Linked DNA regions of Homo sapiens. The protein of the gene in region 3 purifies or fractionates together with the protein of the main gene of each other region. This does not show direct contact. Each region holds a gene or a part of one and is shown on either strand. Other genes may lie near its edges.

Region 1 (3,650 bases), on a different chromosome or scaffold from region 3:
AACTATGTTCTACCTGGAAACCTGTCTTCACTTAGTGACCCCATATCACCAACACATCACCTGGAGAGCACCAAGATACTCACGTATAAGAAGAAAGACTGCTATCATAGGTAGTCTTCACACCGTAGTTCTCCTCATTGAACTTGAACATTTCATTGGGGTCCCATCCATTGGACTGGGGAGGGAGGAAGGTGGTTTTAAAACCCAGCAGGAAAAGCAACGACAAGTCACTTCCCTTCCATCAGGTTAAAAACTCCAAGATGTGAACAAATTGGCTGGGCACAGTGGCTGAAACCTGTAATCCCAGTACTTTGGGAAGCTGAGGCAGGAGGCTCTCCTGAGGCCAGGAGTTTAAGGCCAGACTGGGCAACACAGCAAGAGCTCATCTCTAGAAAAAAATAATGAAACAGCCGGGTGTGGTGGTGCATGCCTGGGGTCCTAGCTACTCGCTACTCAGGAGATTGAGGAGAGAGGATCACTTGAGCCCAGGAGTTTGAGGCTGCAGTGAATTATTATGGCACCACTGCGCTCTGGCCTGGGCGACTAGCTGGGCGTGGTGGCTCATGCCTGTAATCCCAGCACTTTGGGAGGTGGGTGGATCACCTGAGGTCAGGAGATCAACCTGACCAACATGGTGAAACCCCGTCTCTACTAAAAATAAAAAATTAGCCATCCGTGGTGGCGCATGCCTGCAGTCCTGGCTGAGGCAGAAGAATCGCTTGAACCTGGGAGGCAGAGGTTGCAGTGAGCTGAGATCGAGCCACTGCACTCCAGCCTCCAGCCTGAGTGACAGAGTGAGACCCTGTCTCCAAAAAAAACAAAAACAAAAACAAAAACAAACAACTACAACAAAAACCCGGGCAACAGAGCAAGCTCGTCTCAAAAATAAACGACAAAACAAGAGTGGAAAAAAAATTGGAACGTGGCTGGCAAAAGTAATCAACTAATAATTGTAATTAATAACTGCAATTTTTTTTTTTTTTTTGGAGACAAAGAGTTTCACTCTTGTTGCCCAGGCTGGAGTGCAATGGTGCGATCTTGGCTCACCGCAACCTCCGTCTCCTTGGGTTCAAGCGATTCTCCTGCCTCAACCTCACGAGTAGCTGGGATTACGGGCATGTGCCACCACGCCCAGCTAATTTTGTATTTTTAGTAGAGATGGGGCTTCTCCACGTTGGTCAGGCTAGTTCCAAACTCCCAACCTCAGGTGATCTGCCCGCCTTGGCCTCCCAAAGTGCTGGGATTACTGGTGTGAGCCACCGCGCCCGGCCTGCAACTGTTAATGATTACTAACAACTGCAGCAGAAATTATCAATAACTAGTAAACCTGAAAAGTCATAAGACCTAACAATTCTATTTCCAAGACATCCCAGAAAAATTCTGGCACATGTGCGTGGGGAATATATGTTCTAAAAGTCCAGCAAGGTACTATTTTTAGTAGCAAAATAATGGCAACCAAATGCAGATGATTAAGGAAAAGGACAAATACAATTTGCTGTGTACACGTGTGTGTGTATATTTGAAAACAGCACACAACAATAGAAGCAAAGAACTAGATCTACGTACAACCATGAGAAGTTCGAAAAGGCAAGAAAAGCAAATTCTTGTACAAACTAAACATAACAAAACAATAATATATTCATTCACAAGACATTTGTTTCTCAACAGATAGTCTCGCTATGATGCCCAGGCTGGAGCACAGTGGCCATTCACAAGTTGAGTCATAGTGCACCAAAGCTTCAAATGATTCTCCTACCTCAGCCTCCTGAGTAGCTGGGACTACAGGTGTGGGACCACCACGCTCAGCTCTATTCATGAGCGGTTTTTATTTATTTTTTTGAGACATCCTCACTGTCGCTCAGACTGGAGTCCAGTGGCACAATCTCAGCTTACAGCAGCCTCAAACTCCTGGGCTCAAGTGATCGGAGCTCCTGCCTTGGCCTCCCAAGTAGCTGGGACTACAGGCATGAGCCACTGCGCTCAGCCTCATGAGATTTTAAATGCCTCAGAGTAGCTGATTTTGGGAAGAGAAATGGGCCTACACATTAATCTATACTTTTTGTTATGTTGAAAAATAACGTGATGCAAATGCTAGGAGTGGTTAATTATAGATAGTAAGAGAGTAAGTTGATGTTTTGGTTTTGTTGCGTGTGACACGGTCCACCCAGGCTGGAGTGCAGTGGTATGATCACAGCTCACTGTAGCCTCGACCTCCCTGGGCTCAAGTGATCCTTCCACTTCAGCCTCCCAAGTAGCTGGGACTACAGGTACATGCCACCAAACCTTGATAGCTTTTATATATCTTGTTGAGACAGGGTTTCACCATGTTGCCCAGACTGGTCTCGAAATCCTTGCCTCAAGTGACCCACCGGCCTTGGCCTCCCAAAGTGCTGGGATTACAAACATGAGCCACTGCACCCAGCTAAGAATAGATATTTTTACTTTGCTATTTTCTATACCTTTCTATTTGTTATCTGACTACCATCAATGGGCAACAGTAAATATTTCCCTCCCCACTCAAATGAACCTCACTGTCAACAACCCATTCTGTCTGTCCAGCTCCCAAGTTCTCAGGGAAGGAGGCTATACCATGTCAGACTCGAGGTCATAGTCGTCGCTGTTGCTGTCACCCCCCTCCCAGCGCTGAAGCACCTTCTCTTTGTGTTCCCCATTCACTTTCGAGTTCATGGCAATGGCTGAATCGGTGAACTTGTCTGTGGGGGCAGAGGTGAAGATCAGGAGTCAGGCTATATTTCACAGACTTCTTTCCAATATCCCCCAACCCCACTCTCCGTAAGTAGTTCAGGAACAAAGTTTAAGAAGTCCAGAGTACGTGTGCCCGTGTGTTAGGATGGCCAGGGGGTGGGGAGGCAAGAGAAGAAGAGTATAAAAAGTCTATCAGTACTATGATTCCAAAGAAAAAAGAAGTTAAAAACCAAGCAAAGAAAATATGAAGAACCACAACACAGACAGGAATTCATCGCATTATATATTAGACATCAAGACATATTTTTAAGAAGAAAAATCCACCCACTTCGCTCAGGAAAAAAAAGGCATTAAAGCAAAACAAACAAACAAAAACAAAAAAACAAACCAAACACATCACCATGTTCCACCTGCACACAAACTACCCTCTGTCCTCTATGCACACAGAGCAGGTCTGAGGTAACAGCCTAGGACAATACCTTTAGTAGCATAGTTGAAGTCAACATTTCGGAAGTGAACAAGCATGACATCACTTGGCTTAAACACCATGGTGTCCACAATGTCCTCCCGACGAGGGCCACCTGCTGGCTCAGATGCTTTCCGGTGCACAGCATCCACGGCTAGTTCAAACTACAAACACCCCATTCCCCACACCCATGGGTCAGTTTCAAGAAAAGTGAAGGCAAAAATAGAACTGGATTTCTCTTAAATAGAACTGGATTTCTCTTACCCTTCCCAAACTTTTCACAACACTACATCCTCAACATGCTTGGAACCAAGTGCATTGTTTTCTCAACATCAGCCACAGGACTTAGCAAAAGTCTCACAAAAATTTAAACTTAAATATTTTAACATTAAAGTACCCAGCCCTCAAATTTGTCTTTTTTCCCTGCAGCACTATTCAGCACAGGCCTACAGAAACAACTAAAGGCATACTCTGACAT
Region 2 (3,650 bases), on a different chromosome or scaffold from region 3:
TGTGGTGCTTTGTGAGAAGTGCTAGAAAACCCTTAAAGTAACTAATGCCTTTGCAGGACACCCAGCACATAACAATACTTAATAAACAGCAGCGGTTATTGTTTGCGTTTATAATACGCATCTGTGTGTAAGACACTACCCAGAGTGTTACAAGGATCAGTGGACCTCCTCCTTCTCTAAGCTCATAGTCTCTTTGGGCAGATATGCAGACAAATAACTAGAATACAGAGCTGCCCAAGACATGTGAGTGGTATAATAAGTAATATGGGAGTTAAAGAAAAGAGGGAACAGTTTCAAAATATGTAGCCTGGTAAAGTGGATATAGCAGCAACTAGGCATCTTGTCACATCTCAGAGCTCTTTAATTTTAACACAGCAACTTCCAAAGTGTTGTGTCTTGACTCCTGGCAGTCCCTAACACCCTTTCAGGAGGTCCATGAGGTTAAAACTATTCTCATGATAATACTAAGACATTATCATTCTCAATCTCTAATAGACAGCGGAGTTTTCCAGAGGCTATATGACATCCCTTCTATTAAGCCAAATATTAAGGAGATTTGCAAAAATGAAAAACAATATCACTCTTCTCATTACATTTTTTCACTTTAGAAAATGTTTTTTAATATATATATTATTCATATTAGTATTTAATTATTATATTATTTTAATAAATTAGTAAATGAACATTTCAAAATGTGTCTGGTTTTCATTTCTAGTTTGGTAAATAGTGATAGATATAATCTACATTTTTTTTAAAGAAACAGTTCTTTGGGGTCCTCGGTAATTTTTAAGAGTGTAACAGGGTCCTCAGATTTAAAAAGCTTCACTGTTCTAATAAAGGTCTACCTACCTATTTAGTCTGGTAGTTACTGATCGACTCCAAAGACAATTAGGTAAATTCAGGCAGTCAGGGCTTCCCTTTCTGGGAGCAGAGCTGAACTACATGAACTCCTGAGGTTCTGCCTAAGCCAGGACAGCATGTTTCTAAGGGAAATGAATTGATATTACTACCCCGGGGTGAGCAGTACAGGGATTAAACTCGAAGTGTTCCCCCAAAGCCTCAGGCGCACACACACAGACACAAGGGCCGAATGTGACATTGAAGGTCTTCAGGTAGGACATGCACCCTGGCATTAGAAAGTAAGCTCCACTGCTTAAGATAGAGGACTCCCTTTGGCCAGTACCCAAACGTGTGTCAAGAGTCAAAGGCATGATGAATAGGATTGCAATTTGCACCTTATACCTGGACACAAATTCAGAATGCAAAGACGAGAATAAGATGGAGGAGAGGACTCCTGGTCTTTAAACATTTCTTCAGAATTCTCCCTTTTATGGGATATATGGCTTGTGTGTAGGATGGACTTAAATCGATTATATCTCAGAGTCTGAAAAAGCGAGTTCATTATCCAAAAATAATGTTTTATTGACTCTGTTCATGCTCACTGGTCATTTCCATGGGCTTCCTCCTTCTCCATATGTCCCTGATAAGTACAGCCATGCGCTCAGGCCAGTTCCCATTGCAAATATACCACGAGGCCCCCTGAAGTCAGGTGGGCCTCTCACTTTTCTTTAAAGCCCACAACCTTACTCCTTCTCCCCTCAGGGCAGGGGCAAGGGCCTACAGGTGACATCACACCCCAGGGAAAGGTGACTGGCATTAGGTGTATACTGAGGTCAGCAGGGTATACTGAGGCAAAAATGAAAGCCTGTTGAGTGTTTCACCCAGTGTGCCTGCCACTGGGAAAACATAAAGAAACTCTTCACAAAAGGTTTGGGGAATCTGTGGACAGACTTTCAGAATAGGAAACCTGGCTTCCTTCCACAGCACATTTAATATTAGTAATGCCAAGTTCATCTACAAGTAAAACTCAACATGTACAAGAAGTAATGAGTTATTTCTTCACCAAATAGAGAAGCCTAAACCCAGATCCCTGAAAGCTTCTTAACACTTCCACCAGTGGAGAGCTAATCGCACTGATAATAATATGAAAACACACAAACTGCTTTAACAAACACAAGTAGCTCCTCCAAGCACGTATTTATTATCCTCCAAGAGAAACTAGAATAATTTTGCATAGTCAATAACAAACTATACTTTTAGTGATTTCCTTTGTATAGAAAGATGGTGTTTAAGATCTTAATGTGCTGAGGGAGTTTGGCTGCAAACACCTACAAATGGATCTTAGGAGTGGATCAAATGGTGAGGAGATGTTCATTTTACCATTTTATTTCACTAAAGCATTATTCATTCACTTGTCACAACATTTTGAGATACATTTAGTCTAAATGATTGTGGATACAAGATCATTGTGGCTTTTAGTGTAGTTAATTACACAATACAATTAATGCTGTGTTGCAATTCAAGGCTTAGATCCAGGTCCCTGTTGGAGATGTAAATCAGTGCACATCTGACATCCTAACATCTCTGGGGCTTTCTCTCACCATTGGCGGACCTTCCCTTTGAGTGAGTCCCTTCCTTTGCATGCTAATCCTCAGTGCATGAACGCAAAGAGATCTGCCTTCCTGTTCCTATGCTGACTGGCTCCTTTCTCAGAAAATTCTCCTTCATGTCTGGGAAGGTCATACAGCCCTTAGTATCTGGGGTCCCAGTGGCAAGAGCATTGTTTGATGCTGGCTAAAGGAAACAGAAAAGGTCTGTACATGGAAAAGGTTGTAGTTGCAAAAAATCACCCACTAAGTAATCAATCAAATACTGCCCGGTAAATCTGATCAGTGGCTCTGTGATTAGTCCCAAGTGACCTAAAAACACTATAAAGTTGATCTGGTCTGAGGTAGCTCAAAAGATGACTTTGGCCACAGTTGCCACATGACTGTGTTGCAAGACAATCAAAGCATTTAAACAAACCTCAGCAATGTTAACAATACATGACCTGGAAAAAATACAAACTTCCTACACAGACCATTTTGCATGATCAAATGCTATAAAATTGCAAGTACCAGAGTAGAGATTAGCAATTCCTATATAATAAATTTAATGTGCCTAATGACTTCTGTTGAAAGTGCTAAAATTGCTACAAATTTTTTTTCATTCTGTTGCCTTGTCACAAGGGTCTTCTTCCATTTCTGTGAAAACCCTGTAACCATTTTAACAAGGAGAACTTCGTTTATAGTTGCAATGTAGAAAACGCTACATCTTTCAGCACTTAAAAGTTTAAAAGGAACTTTATTTTAACCATAGGAAAGTGAGATAGATGGAAGTTCAAGCAGTAATACAAATGCAGTTTTAAGAACTTATTTCCAAGTACCTTGCTTTCGCAATCTGTGCAAATTATAAACCTTGAAAGTGGGACAAGATCTTGGAGAGGATCTAGGCTGGCCACACCTCTTCATTTTACAGATGAGGAAAATGAGGCAGACAAAGATGAAGTGAGTCTCCCAGGCCACCCACGCAGGGAGTGAGAGTGGCAAAACCAGACCTAGAATTCATTGCTTCTAGCTCCCAGCCTGGCACTTCCCCGCCACACCTGATCACCTGCTTTCTTGTTAATTGCATCTTTGCTGGCATTTGTTCTCTCAGAAGTCTCTCGAGTTCCAAAAATCCTGCATGTCCTGAAGTCTCCCCTTGAAGATATCAACATATCCTGCATGGTTTGTTCAATCGACACAAAACTTCTTCCCTATGATTTTCCT
Region 3 (4,116 bases):
AGCGCTGCCCTGCTCTGCTTTCTTCTAGCTGACCAGGTCCCAGGCCTCAGCTGGTGGCAGGTATGAGAAGCTGAAGGACACAGCAAAGGCTCCTGTCTCAGGAGGTTTGCACCTGGGGCACTGGCACCTCTATCCCCAAAGGCTTCTGCAGAGGTAGTTTAGGAAAGATGGTTAGAGGCATGGGATTTCGAAGCCAGCCTCCCTTGGACTCAAACCCCAGATTGGACATTTCCTAGCTGTGTGATCTTGGGCCTAGTTAACCTCTCTGTGCCTGGATTAAATAAAAAATGCAGATAATGTGTTTAGAACGGTGCCTGGCACAGAAACATCAACACTCCATTAGCTGCAGCTAGTAATGCTAATAATTATAACTGTCATCTGTCCCTCCCACAAGAGGGCAGGGAGCTGGCTCTGGTCACAGTGGCTCTGAGATTCACACTCCTTCCCACTTCTCCTGCCAGCTCACACAAGTTCCTCCTCACAATCATACAAGATTTGTCACGCCTCAAACACATGGCAGGTAACATTCTACCTTCACTCTCAAGCATCACCTTGTGGCCTTGGGACTCAGGACACGGGACACCCACATAAGCAGCTGATGTTCCATCCTCCAGGTGTGGACACTGAGGTCCCAATAGGGAAAATGATCTGCCAGCTTGAATCAGATGGGAGGACTGAGCAAGGCCAAAAAATGGGGATAATAATATGAGCCCCTCCCTTGATGGGCTGTTACAGAAGAACTGCAAGGATCCAATGGGTGTCTGCAACAAGTGCTCTAGAAGTGGGCCCTGCTGTTCTCTCCATAACTCCCAACATGTTCGCAATCAAGGAGCCTTTTTTTTTTTTTTTTTTTTTTTGAGACAGCGTCTCACTCTGTCACCCAGGCTGGAGTGCAATGGCGAGATCTCGGCTCACTGCAAGCTCCACCTCCTGGGTTTATGCCATTCTCCTGCCTCAGCCTTCTGCGTAGCTGGGACTACAGGCGCCCGCCACCATGCCCAGCTAATTTTTTATATTTTTAGTAGAAATGGGGTTTTGCCATGTTGGCCAGGCTGGTCTCGAACTCCTGGCCTCATGATCCACCCACCTTTGCCTCCCAAAGTGCTGGGATTATAGGCGTGAGCCACTGCACCCCGCCAATCAAAGAGCTTTGCTATTGCCATAGGATTCACATCAGGGTACAGTGGGTCCCCAGCCCAAGGGCAGAGGGAGCCCAGAGCATTTAATAAAAAGACTGCAAAGGGGAGGCGCCAATCATGGGCCCCAGCTCCAGTAAGACGTGAAGGAGGCAGGGGTGGGGGTAGGAGGGCTTGTACAGCACCTCAGTGCTTCCAGCTTCTGACGGGGAGTAGCTGAGCATTTTCCCTGGGCTGGGGGCATCAGTAGTGGGGGCCAGGCCTCACCCTCCTCAGAAGGTAGGTGGGCTCTCCACAGCCTGTCTCCCTCACTGACACATGCACACTCACTGGATTCTCACCGGCACTTTTGTGATAGCTGTCATCATCATTCACACCTATTTCTTTTCTTTTCTTTTTCTTCTCTTTTTTTTGAGACAGGGTCTCGCTCTGTCTCCCAGGCTGAAGTGCAGTGGCACCATCACACCTCACTGCAGCCTCAACCTCCTGGGCTCAAGCGATCCTCCCGCCTCAGCCTCCTGAGTAGCTGGGACTACGGGAGTGCACCACCACACACACTTCCCCTAACTTTTTTTATTTTTTGGAGAGACGGGGTCTAGTTTTGTTGTCCAGGCTAGTCTCAAACTCCTGGACTCAAATGATCCTCCCGCCTCAGCCTCACAAAGTGCTGGGATTACAGGCGTGAGCCAACCTCCTGGGCCACTCACACCTATTTCTTAGAAGGGTAAGTTGAGGCTGACTGCAGCTGACTCCTTCCCCAACCACTCTCACACCCTACTGGCTGACTCACCCTGCTTGGCAGACTCCTGGGCCCCTCCTCTCGGACTCTGCGACAGGCCAAGGGGGTCCAGACCCTCCCTGACCCCAACAGTCCCAAGACGCCACAGCTGGTGGGCGGAGAAACAAGGGGATTCTCCCCTGGGGCCAGTGGCCATGGCTTGGCCTCGAGTGAACCCTGCTAGGGCCCCAAACCCAGGGCCTACCTAGCTCCTGTTCTTCCCGCGCGGGGGAAGGGGGGTGCTCTGCTCCCCTCCCTCCCCTTTCTGGCAGGGCTCACGGTTCTTCCCCGGGGCGCATCCACAAACCTGAGCTCCTTGGCGCTCACCACCATAACGCTGGCGTACAAAGCTGCTTCCATTCACTGAGCACTCAGTAGGCGCCGGGCACAGCACTAGGTGCCTATCCGGCGTAGACATCGGGCCTGATCATACAGCTGAGCTTCAGAGACCTCAAGTCCCTGCCCAGGCCCACACAGCGCTCAGCGGTGCTAGGATGCCCACTTGACAGACAGCGAAACTGAGACCCAGAGGGGTCAAGTCAGGGGCAGAAGCAGACTCTGGAGGCCTCCGGGTTCTGGACCTTCTCTGCCCCATTGTCCCTGATTAGCCCGCAAGCAAGCCACGGCCTAAGCCGAAGGAAGAACTCGCCTGCAGGAGCCCCCGTTCGTTCCCAGGGTTTGGACGCCCCGGGCTGGGCCCCGCTAAGCCCCTCGGGCCGCCCAGGCGCCGGACCCCCGTCCCCGGAGCCCCCGCGCGCGCTCACTTTGGGCTTGTCGAAGGCGGGCGTCTGGGCCATGGTGCCCTCGTGCGCCCCGGCGCTGCTCCCTCCGCCGCCGCTCGGTGGGTCTCTGCCGGCTCGGTGGCCGCTCGGCTTTCCCTGGGGCCAGCGGTGGCCGCGGCCGGCCACGCTCTTCTTAACGGGCCGGGCCCCGCCTCCCGCCCCGCCCGCCGCCGTTCCCGGGGCCCGCCCTCTCGCCGGAGCCCCCGCCCCGCCCGCCGGCCTGGATCGCGCATTTCCTGGAATTCTGGACCCGGCGTCCTCGCCCGCCGACCCGAAAACTACGGCCCCGCGGCGCCCGACCGGACCCACCTGTGGGCGCGCGCTCCAGCCGCCTCGCTGGGCGCTGCCTTCCCCCCGGCTCCTCCAGCAACTTTCAAGCGTCCCCCTGCAGTCTGGGCGCTGCTGTGCGCCAGGCCCAAGCTAGAAGCGGGGACCCCGGGAGCATCGCAAGCCTCGAGCGGCGTGCCTTCCACCGGATAGACGGACGCTCGTCGCAGAAACACACACCATAATTGTATAGTTAAGGAACTTTCGAGGGGGGCCAGCCGTGGCCTGCAGAACCTGCAGGAGTTCATCAGGGGTGGGTGGGGGTGGAGAGGACATTCTACGTGAGAGACTCCAGGGAGCTGGGAGTGAAAGGAGGCGAGGAAGGCTGGAGCTCGGAGGGAGGGAGAACACAGACAGTCCCCTCCTGGGCATTCACCTTTAAGAAACCCGCCCAGGCGCAGCCAGAGACCTGTGCAGAATGTTCACACCAGCGCTATTCCGAATAACAGGAACATTGGAAACACCCTCAAATGCCCCTCCACGGGCGAGTGGGCAAATAAACCGGAATATTCACACCATGAAACGTTAGACAGCAGTGAAACGGAATGAACTTCAGCCAGACAACAACAGAAACAATGTCTCAGAAACAATGTTGAGTGAAAAAAACTAAGTTGCGGAAAACTGCATACAATGGTGCAACTTTTAGAATGTGTAAAAGCAAAACCAAAAGTATGTATGTTTAGACACATGCATCGGTGGAAAAAATGTAAAGCAAGGGAAAGATGAGCATAGATACGAGAAGAGTGGTTATCTCAGGTGAAAGGGAAGGAGCCGGGAGGAGGTAAGGACGGAGGGAAATAACACGCGGGTACAGGTTATTTATTTATTTATTTATTTATTTATTTATTTATTTATTTATTTACTGAGACGGAGTTTCGCTCTTTCGCGGAGGCTGCAGTGAAGTGGCGCGATCTGGGCTCACTGCAACCTCTGCCCCTCTGGCCCGCCTCCTCCCCACCGCTCCCCCGCACCCCCAGCGTTTCAAGCGATTTTCCTGTCTCAGCCTCCCGAGTAGCTGGGATTATAGGCGCCCACAACCACGCCTGGCTAATTTTTGTTTTTTGTTTTTTTGTTTTTGTTTTTGTTTTTTTGA
Region 4 (3,650 bases), on a different chromosome or scaffold from region 3:
TGGGCTGTCGCTCTCAAAAAAGACCCAGAAAACACCATCCCTGCTTATGGCCAATAGGAAGGTTCACTAGGACCTTGGCCAAAGAGCTGTAAAATGAACCTAAGTTCAAGACTGGCTGAAGAAAGTTCATTTGTTTAACTACTGTATACAGTGCAAATAAGGAGGGGGAAGGCTGTGGGGCAGACCCTTCTGGGGCTGTAAAGAAGCATAATTATCAGGCAGAGATAAACCCCCTTTTTAACAACAATTCAAGAGAGTTTATAGCTTCACACATTTATCAAATTTCTCTCTAATGAACAAAAGGTTAATAGAAATAGTTTTAATAAACTAAAGTTAAAACACAGAAATTATAGGTTATTAAATAATGAAGAGGAAACTATTTTGTAATTATAAACTCACATAGGAGTTAAACAAAGACAAACAAAAACATGAACAAATTGTGGTATTGTACCTTCTGAAGACATGCGTTTAGGCATAGTAGAGACAGGAGCTGGAGAACCATGAGCAGAGGGGTGAGACGGGGGTCTGGATGGCCGCGAGGGGGGCCTGGAGGGCGGCCGTGTAGGGGTGGCTGCCCGAGGTGGAAGAGAGTTGGGACCTGACTGGTAGCGAGAAGGTGGGCGAGAGGAAGGAGATGGGCAAGGCGATGGCCAGGGAACACCTGACAGAACAAATGATATGAAGGAAAGTATAAAAACTAAAGAAAAAAATGAGGGAAAAAAGTAAACAGAAAAAAAGTAAAATGACAAAAATGATTTCTTGTACATTTTAACCCTTTGAGGACAGTCATTTGATTTGTGATAAGTTTTAGCATAACTTAACTGACATAAATTCACATTTTACTTTAACCTCCTTAAGATTAAGTCTGTTTAAATGAATACACGTTCCCAAAGGGTTAATTAGGATCTATACACACTATTGAAGAAGACAGTTAAGACTTTGCCTATTAATCCTGCTTCTATAACTGTTTCTCAGTAACTGGTTGTTTAAAGGAATATAACATACACTAGATAATTTCACATAATAAATCACAATAATTCCTACTCAGGAGTAAGATTATTTACTGTATTAGTTTTAACTCTGAGGCATAACGAAAATAAGCAGTAGCTATTATATCCAATTAGAAATGCTGGTTCCTTACAATTATCTATGATTTTCATCAGGTTTACACTTGAACCCAGAACTCAGTTTGGAATCTTATTAAGCAAGTCCCATTTAAGTAGAAATAAAACATTACTCTTCTAGAGTTTGTGACTCCTGTGAGTATCAAATGATAATATTCATTGCTATTTCAAAAAAAAAGTCTTGACCTCATTAAACTAGAAAAAGGGAGACCTTCTAAATAATTTATACAGTTAAACACTTATCTAAGCGACTGCTTAATAAATACTGCAACTACAAAGCAGTCATCACCAAATAAATTTATACTGATGGATATGCCTAGGTAAAGATACAGCTAGTATTTAACATTACATATCACTTACCTTAATCTTATCAAACAGTCCAGGTCTCCTCTCCATAGGGTTCCACACACTTAAGTATCATATATTTCTCAGCCCCCTTCAGGTTTTTTAACTTTAAAATTCTGTTTATAAACAACTAAAATCTTTCCTCAGTGAGCAAAGAAATTTCACCCCCAATATTAAGTACTGAAAATACTCAAGAGTGTCCATTTGGAGAGGAATTCTGGAGAAAAGACTCAATGAAAACAAATGAAATTGGAAACTTAGTGTTCTCTATTTTCATCTAACTTTCCAAATTTAAATAGCTAAAATTGAATGTCCACTCTTTTCCCACAAAGTTAGTAACATACTATTGCTATTACTATTTCCATACCATCCATAGAACTGTTGTTCAGTATCCCTGATTTATGGAAAAGATCCACAACCTACAAGATATATTCAACCTAGATTTAGAGGTAGAGTAAAAAATGTCTTCCTACTAAAGATTCAGGTTTCTTTTACTTAAGTTGCTAAACTGTAACATCCACCCTTAGACTAAGGGTTGTTTTTGTTGTTTTTTAAGCAAATTTCTCTAGTCACTTTCTTCACATGACTCTTGATCATGTCTTGTATTATAAGTTACCTCAGATCCTTTCTTGAAGTAAGCATAATATAGAAACAAATAATGAAAATTGATCTATATTAACCACAGTGTTGCACATAGGTTAGAATTTTCCATATAAATTATGTCTAAAAAATTTTATTATCCAGTGTTTTTAAAATTGAGAACCTACCCAAAGTTTCCAATTTCTTTATATGTGAAGTGTTTTTGGCCAAGTGATTGTCTTGGGTTAAATGTAGCACTTTATCTTAGTACATCATGAATATTTCATCATGCTAAATAATATATATGTCAATGACATATACAATGTTTTACTAATTTAATATCCACAAAAGCCAATTTTAAGTAATGCTGAAGTGAAAGCTACTCACCAAATCATTAAAGTGCACATTCATATCAGTTATGTAAACTATTTTAAGTATTTTAAGTATTTAGAAAACTATTTTATCAATGATATTGACAAGTCTGGTCAAAATACTTGCCTCCATTAACTACTCTTTGGTCTGAACCAGAATTCGGGTTGAAATCTGAAGTGTGAGAAGTGGATCTTGATGGCATGGAGCCCGATCCAGGCTGGCCCATACGCGGTGAATTCTGTCTCCCACTTCCCCAGGATATGACTTCTCTATTTCTTTGTCCAGGAGGAATATATTTATTTTCCCTGAAAATGAGAGATCCTCTAAATCATTTTATTCTAAAAGGTACCAAGCCAATGAAACATATCTAAAAGTCATCTAGACAGAAGGGAATGCTTGTTACAAAAAGGTTCTACACTAAACCAAACTGCCTCACTCCCAGATGCCCCTGTTCTTCCATCTTACCCTGAGTTCTAACCTCTGGACTGTCCCTTCCCTTAGATTCTGCTCCTAAGCACAAAGTTTAACAGATGCGTGCTCATTCTCATCCCACTTGACCTCTCTATGGCTGATTCCATCAATCTTGGTCTATCTTCACAACATTTTTTGTCCTTCACTTTCTCAATTTTATTTTCTCTGAGATCTCTTCTCTCACTGGCTGTTCTTTGGTTTTTCATGGCTCCAATATCGGCAATGCTGATGAAACCTCAAACTGAACCGCCAGTCTCACAGTGTCAACATCTATCAGTGGACATGTCAATTCAAATCACCAGACTCTAAGCTGACTGCCTTTAAGAGAGGATGCATCTCTTACTTTACTAGATAGGTAGCAGGTATTTCTCAACACGTTTATGAATAAATGAAAGACCCACAAGCCCACATATGCAATTAGCTGCACAAACGGAGTCACTGTTTTTCCCCTCAAACTTGCTCCATGTTTCCTCTCTCTCTTACCAGTACATCCATTAAGTCACTTAGTTATCAAATAAACCTCAGGCTCATCCCTTAACTAGGTGGTTACCAAATTCTCACAGTTGAACTATTTCAGTGCACTAACTGTTCTCTGTGTCTCAGCCAGTCCTCAATGCCCCAGGGTTTATTCACCCCATCTCCTTCCAACAGGGTGCTCTTTAGCATGACATGCCAAGTCCTTTAATGACCTCAGTTCCTACTATCAACTGCCACTGCTGCACCTGACACAGATCCTGTGTTCCAGACACATGCAACAAC

What was found.
Region 1: the proteins of ADA (region 3) and ATXN2L fractionate together in Homo sapiens (co-fractionation; one large-scale study listed by BioGRID). This does not show direct contact.
Region 2: the proteins of ADA (region 3) and SERPINB5 fractionate together in Homo sapiens (co-fractionation; one large-scale study listed by BioGRID). This does not show direct contact.
Region 4: the proteins of ADA (region 3) and ATXN2 fractionate together in Homo sapiens (co-fractionation; one large-scale study listed by BioGRID). This does not show direct contact.

Annotation. Positions count from the first base shown.
Region 1 is NC_000016.10:28,825,926-28,829,575, reverse strand, and holds part of ATXN2L (ataxin-2-like protein), read right to left. Parts: intron 3,337-3,650; coding exon 3,186-3,336; intron 2,715-3,185; coding exon 2,590-2,714; intron 176-2,589; coding exon 84-175; intron 1-83. UniProt on the Homo sapiens protein: Involved in the regulation of stress granule and P-body formation.
Region 2 is NC_000018.10:63,479,839-63,483,488, reverse strand, and holds part of SERPINB5 (serpin B5), read right to left. Parts: intron 1-3,650. UniProt on the Homo sapiens protein: Tumor suppressor. It blocks the growth, invasion, and metastatic properties of mammary tumors.
Region 3 is NC_000020.11:44,648,897-44,653,012, forward strand, and holds the start of ADA (adenosine deaminase), read right to left. Parts: upstream 2,804-4,116; 5' UTR 2,712-2,803; coding exon 2,679-2,711; intron 1-2,678.
Region 4 is NC_000012.12:111,515,703-111,519,352, forward strand, and holds part of ATXN2 (ataxin-2), read right to left. Parts: intron 2,726-3,650; coding exon 2,547-2,725; intron 662-2,546; coding exon 452-661; intron 1-451. UniProt on the Homo sapiens protein: Involved in EGFR trafficking, acting as negative regulator of endocytic EGFR internalization at the plasma membrane.